Linked DNA regions of Homo sapiens. The protein of the gene in region 1 purifies or fractionates together with the protein of each later gene. This does not show direct contact. Each region holds a gene or a part of one and is shown in the gene's direction. Other genes may lie near its edges.

What was found.
Region 2: the proteins of ZNF44 (region 1) and POGK purify together in Homo sapiens (affinity purification with mass spectrometry; one large-scale study listed by BioGRID and IntAct). This does not show direct contact.

Annotation. Positions count from the first base shown.
Region 1 is NC_000019.10:12,271,172-12,274,785, reverse strand, and holds the end of ZNF44 (zinc finger protein 44), read left to right. Parts: intron 1-720; exon of another isoform or gene 721-722; coding exon 723-2,379; 3' UTR 2,380-2,978; downstream 2,979-3,614. UniProt on the Homo sapiens protein: May be involved in transcriptional regulation.
Region 2 is NC_000001.11:166,849,383-166,853,208, forward strand, and holds part of POGK (pogo transposable element with KRAB domain), read left to right. Parts: coding exon 1-1,027; 3' UTR 1,028-1,041; exon of another isoform or gene 1,042-3,202; 3' UTR 3,203-3,826.

The DNA of each region.
Region 1 (3,614 bases):
AGTGTTTGCAAAGTAGTTCCCATGGAAACAATATTAAGATTTCCCATATGAGGCTGGGTGTGGTAGCTCATGCCCGCAATCCCAGCACTTTGGGAGGCTGAGACAGGAGGATCACTTGAGCCTGGGAGTTTGAGGCTGCAGTGATCTGTGATGGCACTGGTGCACTCTAACCTAAGTGACAGAGCAAGACCCTGTCTTAAAAAAAAAAAAAAGGCCAGGCGCAGTGGCTTATGCCTGTAATCCCAGCACTTTGGGAGGCCGAGGTGGGTGGATCCACGAGGTCAGGAGATCGAGACCAACCTGGCCAACATGGTGAAACCCCATCTCTACTAAAAATACACAAAAATTAGCTGGGTGTGGTGGTGCATGCCTGTAGTCCCAGCTACTTGGGAGGCTGAGGCAGGAGAATCACTTGAACCTGGGAGGCGGAGGTTGCAGCAAGCCGAGACAGCACCAGCTGCACTCCAGCCTGATGACAGAGGGAGACTCCATCTCAAAAAAAAAAAAAAAAAAAAAAAAGAATTAAGAATCCCCATGTGCATATCATTGTCTTGAAAATAGCTGGGATTGAGTTATCTTGCACAACATTCAGTCCATTCACATTGAAGCAGGACATGAAGCTTATAGCTTGCCTGATAATGTTAAAAATGTAAATCTAATACCTGTTGATAAATATAAATTCAATAATAAACCTTTAGTAATGTACTTTTCATTTTTTACAGGTGTGATGTGGTAGAGAGATTTGGTAAAAGTAAAGATGGTAGTCAGTGTGGAGAAACCTTAAGCCAGATTCGAAATAGTATTGTAAACAAGAACACTCCCGCCAGAGTAGATGCATGTGGAAGCAGTGTGAATGGAGAAGTCATAATGGGTCATTCATCCCTGAATTGCTACATCAGAGTTGATACTGGACACAAACACCGGGAGTGTCATGAATATGCAGAGAAGTCATATACACATAAGCAGTGTGGGAAAGGCTTAAGTTATCGCCACTCCTTTCAAACATGTGAAAGGCCTCACACTGGAAAGAAACCCTATGATTGTAAGGAATGTGGAAAAACCTTCAGTTCTCCTGGAAACCTTCGAAGACATATGGTAGTAAAAGGTGGAGATGGACCTTATAAATGTGAATTGTGTGGGAAAGCCTTTTTTTGGCCCAGTTTATTACGTATGCATGAAAGAACTCACACTGGAGAGAAACCATATGAATGTAAGCAGTGTTCTAAAGCCTTCCCTGTTTACAGTTCCTATCTAAGACATGAAAAAATACACACTGGGGAGAAACCGTATGAATGTAAGCAGTGTTCTAAAGCCTTCCCTGATTACAGTTCATATCTAAGACATGAAAGAACTCACACTGGAGAGAAACCCTACAAATGTAAACAATGTGGGAAAGCCTTCAGTGTTTCCGGTTCCCTTCGAGTACATGAAAGAATTCACACTGGAGAGAAACCCTATACATGTAAACAGTGTGGGAAAGCGTTTTGTCATCTTGGAAGCTTTCAAAGACACATGATAATGCACAGTGGAGATGGACCTCATAAATGTAAGATATGTGGGAAAGGCTTTGATTTTCCTGGTTCAGCACGAATTCATGAAGGAACTCACACTCTAGAGAAACCCTATGAATGTAAGCAATGTGGGAAATTGTTATCTCATCGCTCAAGCTTTCGAAGACACATGATGGCACACACTGGAGATGGCCCTCATAAATGCACAGTATGTGGGAAAGCCTTTGATTCTCCTAGTGTATTTCAAAGACATGAAAGGACTCACACTGGAGAGAAACCCTATGAATGCAAGCAATGTGGGAAAGCCTTCCGTACTTCCAGTTCCCTTCGAAAACATGAAACAACACACACTGGAGAGCAACCCTATAAATGTAAATGTGGAAAAGCTTTTAGTGATTTATTTTCCTTTCAAAGTCATGAAACAACACACAGTGAAGAGGAGCCTTATGAATGTAAGGAGTGTGGGAAAGCATTTAGTTCTTTTAAATACTTTTGTCGCCATGAAAGGACTCACAGTGAAGAAAAATCTTATGAGTGTCAAATTTGTGGCAAAGCCTTCAGTCGTTTCAGTTACTTAAAAACTCATGAAAGGACTCACACGGCAGAGAAGCCATATGAATGTAAGCAATGCAGGAAAGCATTCTTTTGGCCCTCTTTCCTTCTAAGACATGAAAGGACTCACACTGGAGAAAGACCCTATGAATGTAAACACTGTGGTAAAGCCTTCAGTCGTTCCAGTTTCTGTCGAGAACATGAAAGAACTCACACTGGAGAGAAGCCCTATGAATGTAAGGAATGTGGGAAAGCCTTCAGTTCTCTCAGTTCCTTTAATAGACATAAAAGGACACACTGGAAGGATATTCTATAAGTGTATGGAATGTGGGAAAGCATTCATTGGTTTTATCACATTCAGATACTTGAAAGAAATAAATCCTGTGAATGTAAACGTGGTAAAGCCTTAAGAAGTTTCCAGGCTGGGCGCAGCGGCTCACACCTGTAATCCCAGCACTTTGAGAGGCCGAGGAGGGCAGATCACGAGGCCAGGAGATCGAGACCAGCCTGGCTAACATGGGAAACCCTGTCTCTACTAAAAATACGGAAAAAAAAAAAAATAGCCAGGCATAGTTGCTCACACCTGTAGTCCTAGCTACTCAGGAGGCTGAGGCAGGAGAATCCCTTGAACCCGGGAGGTGGAGGTTGCAGTGAGCCGAGATTGCACTACTGCACTCCAGCTTGGGTGCTAGAGCGAGACTCCATCTCAAAAAAAAAAAAAAAAGTTTCCATTTCTTTCAAATAGAGTTGCTGCCTGCTATATGCAAGAAGATTGGTTCCAGTACACCCTGAGTATACCTAAATCCACAGATGCCAGCTCTTTTATAAAATGGAATATTCGCATGTACCTACCCACATTCTCCTGTATACTCTATAAATGTCTAGATTAATTAAAATATCTCATGCATTGTAAAAGCTGTGTACATAGTTGTATTGTTTAGGGAATCATAAGAAAAAAAATCTATATGTGTTCAGTACAGACCCAACCATTGCAGGCCTATCTACATCGTATATATCACCTATAATGTTACAGTTTCTTGTTTCAATACTCAGATTACTTTTGTCTAATGACCTGAAAGAATGTGTTAACACCAACCACAATTCTGGTTCTTCTCTCTTGATAACCCAAGTATTACGATGGTTATGACAATGATGATTGCTGTATGGTGCCTAATGTGATGTGTAGAGGTGACTAGATGTGTGGCATCATAGATAAACAGTGAGACCTCAGGCTAACTTGAATCTTGACAGGACATCAAGACCTTCATCTATGTTGGAAGACCCAGGTTCTGATTGAAGATGTTGACTCTTTGCAGGAGGCTAATACTAATGTCAGCATCTGTTCAGCTTGAGGGCTGAAGATGTTTGTGTTGAAGGGTATGTCTTCATATTTGCAGATATTTAGTTAGAAGCATTGTTTTAGGAAGCTAGTTCTTTTTCTTTGAATCCCTAAAAAAACCTTAGTGTTCATTAGCATATTTTCCCTTATATGACACAGAAGCTTTTTTCAATCAAAGGATGTTAGCTGAGGTTGATTATCTTTAACACTTG
Region 2 (3,826 bases), on another chromosome or scaffold:
ATATGTCAGATACATGCAGGCCAAAGGGGACCCCATCACCCGGGAGGCGATGCAGCTGAAAGCTCTCGAAATCGCCCAGGAAATGAACATTCCAGAGAAAGGGTTCAAGGCAAGCTTGGGTTGGTGTCGAAGAATGATGAGAAGGTATGACCTGTCTCTGAGGCATAAAGTGCCCGTGCCCCAGCACCTGCCGGAAGACCTGACTGAGAAACTCGTCACTTACCAGCGCAGTGTCCTGGCTCTGCGCAGGGCGCATGACTATGAGGTAGCTCAGATGGGGAATGCAGATGAGACGCCCATTTGTTTAGAGGTGCCATCACGGGTAACTGTTGATAACCAGGGCGAAAAGCCTGTCTTGGTCAAGACACCAGGCAGGGAAAAACTGAAAATCACAGCAATGCTTGGTGTCTTGGCTGATGGGAGGAAGTTACCACCGTACATCATTTTGAGGGGAACATATATCCCCCCGGGGAAGTTTCCCAGTGGGATGGAAATTCGCTGCCACCGGTATGGGTGGATGACTGAAGACTTGATGCAGGACTGGTTGGAAGTGGTGTGGAGACGGAGGACAGGAGCAGTGCCCAAGCAGCGAGGGATGCTGATCTTGAATGGCTTCCGGGGCCATGCCACAGATTCCGTGAAGAACTCCATGGAAAGCATGAACACTGACATGGTGATCATCCCAGGGGGTCTGACCTCACAGCTTCAGGTGCTGGATGTCGTGGTCTACAAGCCACTGAATGACAGTGTGCGGGCCCAGTACTCCAACTGGCTTCTGGCTGGGAACCTGGCGCTGAGCCCAACCGGGAATGCTAAGAAGCCACCCCTGGGCCTCTTTCTGGAGTGGGTCATGGTCGCGTGGAATAGCATCTCAAGTGAGTCCATCGTCCAAGGGTTCAAGAAGTGCCATATCTCCAGCAACTTGGAGGAGGAAGACGATGTCCTGTGGGAAATCGAGAGTGAGTTGCCAGGAGGAGGAGAACCACCAAAAGATTGTGACACCGAAAGCATGGCTGAGAGCAACTGAAGGGAAAGGGAAAGGTAACCACTCAGGAGTAGATACTCAGTGCCTTTGCTGACATGTCTGTGTTCTACAAACACCTTCTCTCCATTATTTTTCTGTTTTTAAGTTCCCTTAGAGCCTACAGTGCAGTAGTGTAGATCAGGGGTCCCCAACCCCCAGGTCACGGACCATACTGGTCCATGGCCTGTCAGGAACTGGGCTGCACAGCAGGAGGTGAGCGGCAGGTGAGCAAGCATTACCACCTGAGCTCCGCCCGCTGTCACAGCAGCGGCATTAGATTCTCATAGGAGCACAAACCCTGTTGTGAACTGCACATGTGAGGGATCTAGGTTGCAGGCTCCTCAATGCCTGAGGATCTGAGGCGGAACAGTTTCATCCCAAAGCCATCCTACCACCCACTACCCCGCACTTCCTGGGTCCCTGCAAAAATTGTCTTCCATGAAACCAGTCCCTGGTGCCAGAAAAGTTGGGGACTGCTGGTATAGATAACAGACCATTAGCATTTTCTCCTTTATATGAAACATTTATTATTTGATTTATTTGTGTCTATTTTGCTCTGTGGCTTGGACCCAGAAACACTTGTATAATAGGTGAAATGAACAAAGAATGAGCTGCCAGAACATCTGAGAGCTGTAAAGTTAAAATTATTTGGACCCAAAGAAGCATAGTCTGACGTTGTTCAGTTCACACAAAATTTTGTCTGAAAAGCCAACTTTTTTCTTTCCCTTTTAAATTATGCTGAACATTTAGGGCCAGTATGTGTAACTGACATGCTGGGACAGTTGTACTCACTTTTGCTGGCCTGTAGGACTGTGACATAGGGAGAACACTAAGTGTGTCCTCCGGGCCTCGGGTCTCAGTCCTGGAGCTATCTACAGTATGTTACCAGCGAGTAAGAATAATAGCTTCTACTTGCTTTTCCCTACAGAGTTCAGGAGTTTTAAAACGTCATCTTAGTCTCATTATGACCTTCACATGGGCTATGACAATAATTTCCTGTAGTCAGCAGATGTCTGAAGGAAGATATTTTTTAACTGAATCTTTACACCAAAAAAAGAAAATAAAACGGTGCGTATCTAGGACTCTAGTGAGGGCTGAGGACAATAGGCCTGGAATTTTCTGGGTTGAGTACACAAGAAGAACAGCTTTCAAAGGAAAGTAGGAATGGAGGCCTAACTGAGACAACACTAGTGAAATGACCCCACCCACCTACACCTCCAGAGAGGAGGAGGATGAGCATGTACAGCAGGGGGGACACCCACAAAGAACAAACAATTCATTTACCTGTTCGTTCTCATCTCCCTAATTATAAATTAAATTGATCCTCCAGACAGTGTTTTATATGAAGGAAGAAGCCACCTTTTTTACAGAGGACCTGAAACCGTCAACCATCTTCACACATTCTTTTTCTTTCTTTTAAAGTATAATTAGGTATTTCCATCTTCCTTGCTTTTTTCTCCAAATGAAATGCTAATGGGAGCCTTATTTTACCCACTTCAGCTATATAAGTCCATCTGTGTTTCAAAGAGTGACTTATGTCTCCTGCCTTGCTTCCAAATTAAATTGTACTCATATTGCTGAATCCCATTGTAATTCTGGGATCCCTGGAATTACAATGGAGCAAGAAGTTCTTACTATTACATTCAAAATCACCAAAATTGCTTTTTTTTCCCCCTTGGGTCCTCCTTGCTTTGAGAAACCCCATGAATCCAGCCTCCCTTTTCTGCTGACCCTTATATTGCCTGCATTGGATATCAAACTGAATTACATTGAGTTTCCATCTTTTCTTCATTTACCTTTTGCTTTTCCCTCTCCTTGTTAGATAACATTTTTGTGCACTTTTAATTTCCTAAGCTCCTTACCACCTCAGGGACATGATTAAAAACTTCCAGAAGAGGAAAGGAGAAAAAGCTATGCTAAGTTGCATTTATGAATGTTGGCCTGTAATATTGGTCATGAGCTTTTGCTCTTCTAGTCTGCCACAATTCTCTCTGCAGCTCCTGAGGAAGTGATGGGAGTAGACAGATTCACAGTGAACAAGAGATTTGGGAGACCAAGTGGGCATAAAACTACGTCTTGGCCTCTATTTGGAAATCTGAATGATGGAATTATTATGTTTGTTAAAAGTTATACCAAAAAGCCAAGGGTTAATTCATTTAGGTTCTCTCTGTTTTCCAGCAAATGGAACTCTGATTTAAACAGCTGGGGATGAAATTCCTCAAGATGATTATTCCTGAAAGTGTGGATGCGCTGGATGCGCAGGGAACATCAGGAAAAGGCCACGGGGCTCTGAACAGCCCCGGTCCAGACAGCAGCCTGTACATCCATCCCAGGACACAGCCCAGCCCCTCCCCACACCATACAAGGTATCAGAAAAGTCTAGGACCTATCATTTCATCAGAGACATGATCAGAAAAGAAACTGCTTCTGCCCCATTTCTTGTTTTGGAGATTACTCCATCTGTCCATCAAAAGAAACCTGTAAATATGAAAGAACAAAGGTTATTTCCTGGAGAAAAGACAATTTATTCAACACCAACGAGGGACTCATCATATGGGCACAACTCTGGTGTCCTTCTATGGAGAAAACCTCAAGTAAAGTTTTATTCTGCCTTTGAAAATGCTTCCAAAAGTAGACCCTGTCCCCACACAGGTCAAGACTACAGAGAAGGCTTTGTAGAAATGTGTCACCTATGTACACCTGCTACTTACACATTTCCTCTTTTGGAAAAATGAGATACTTAGAATAACAAGAAAATTAAGACATACTGGCCTGGTGCCAGCAGATGGCTTTTCTATAGAC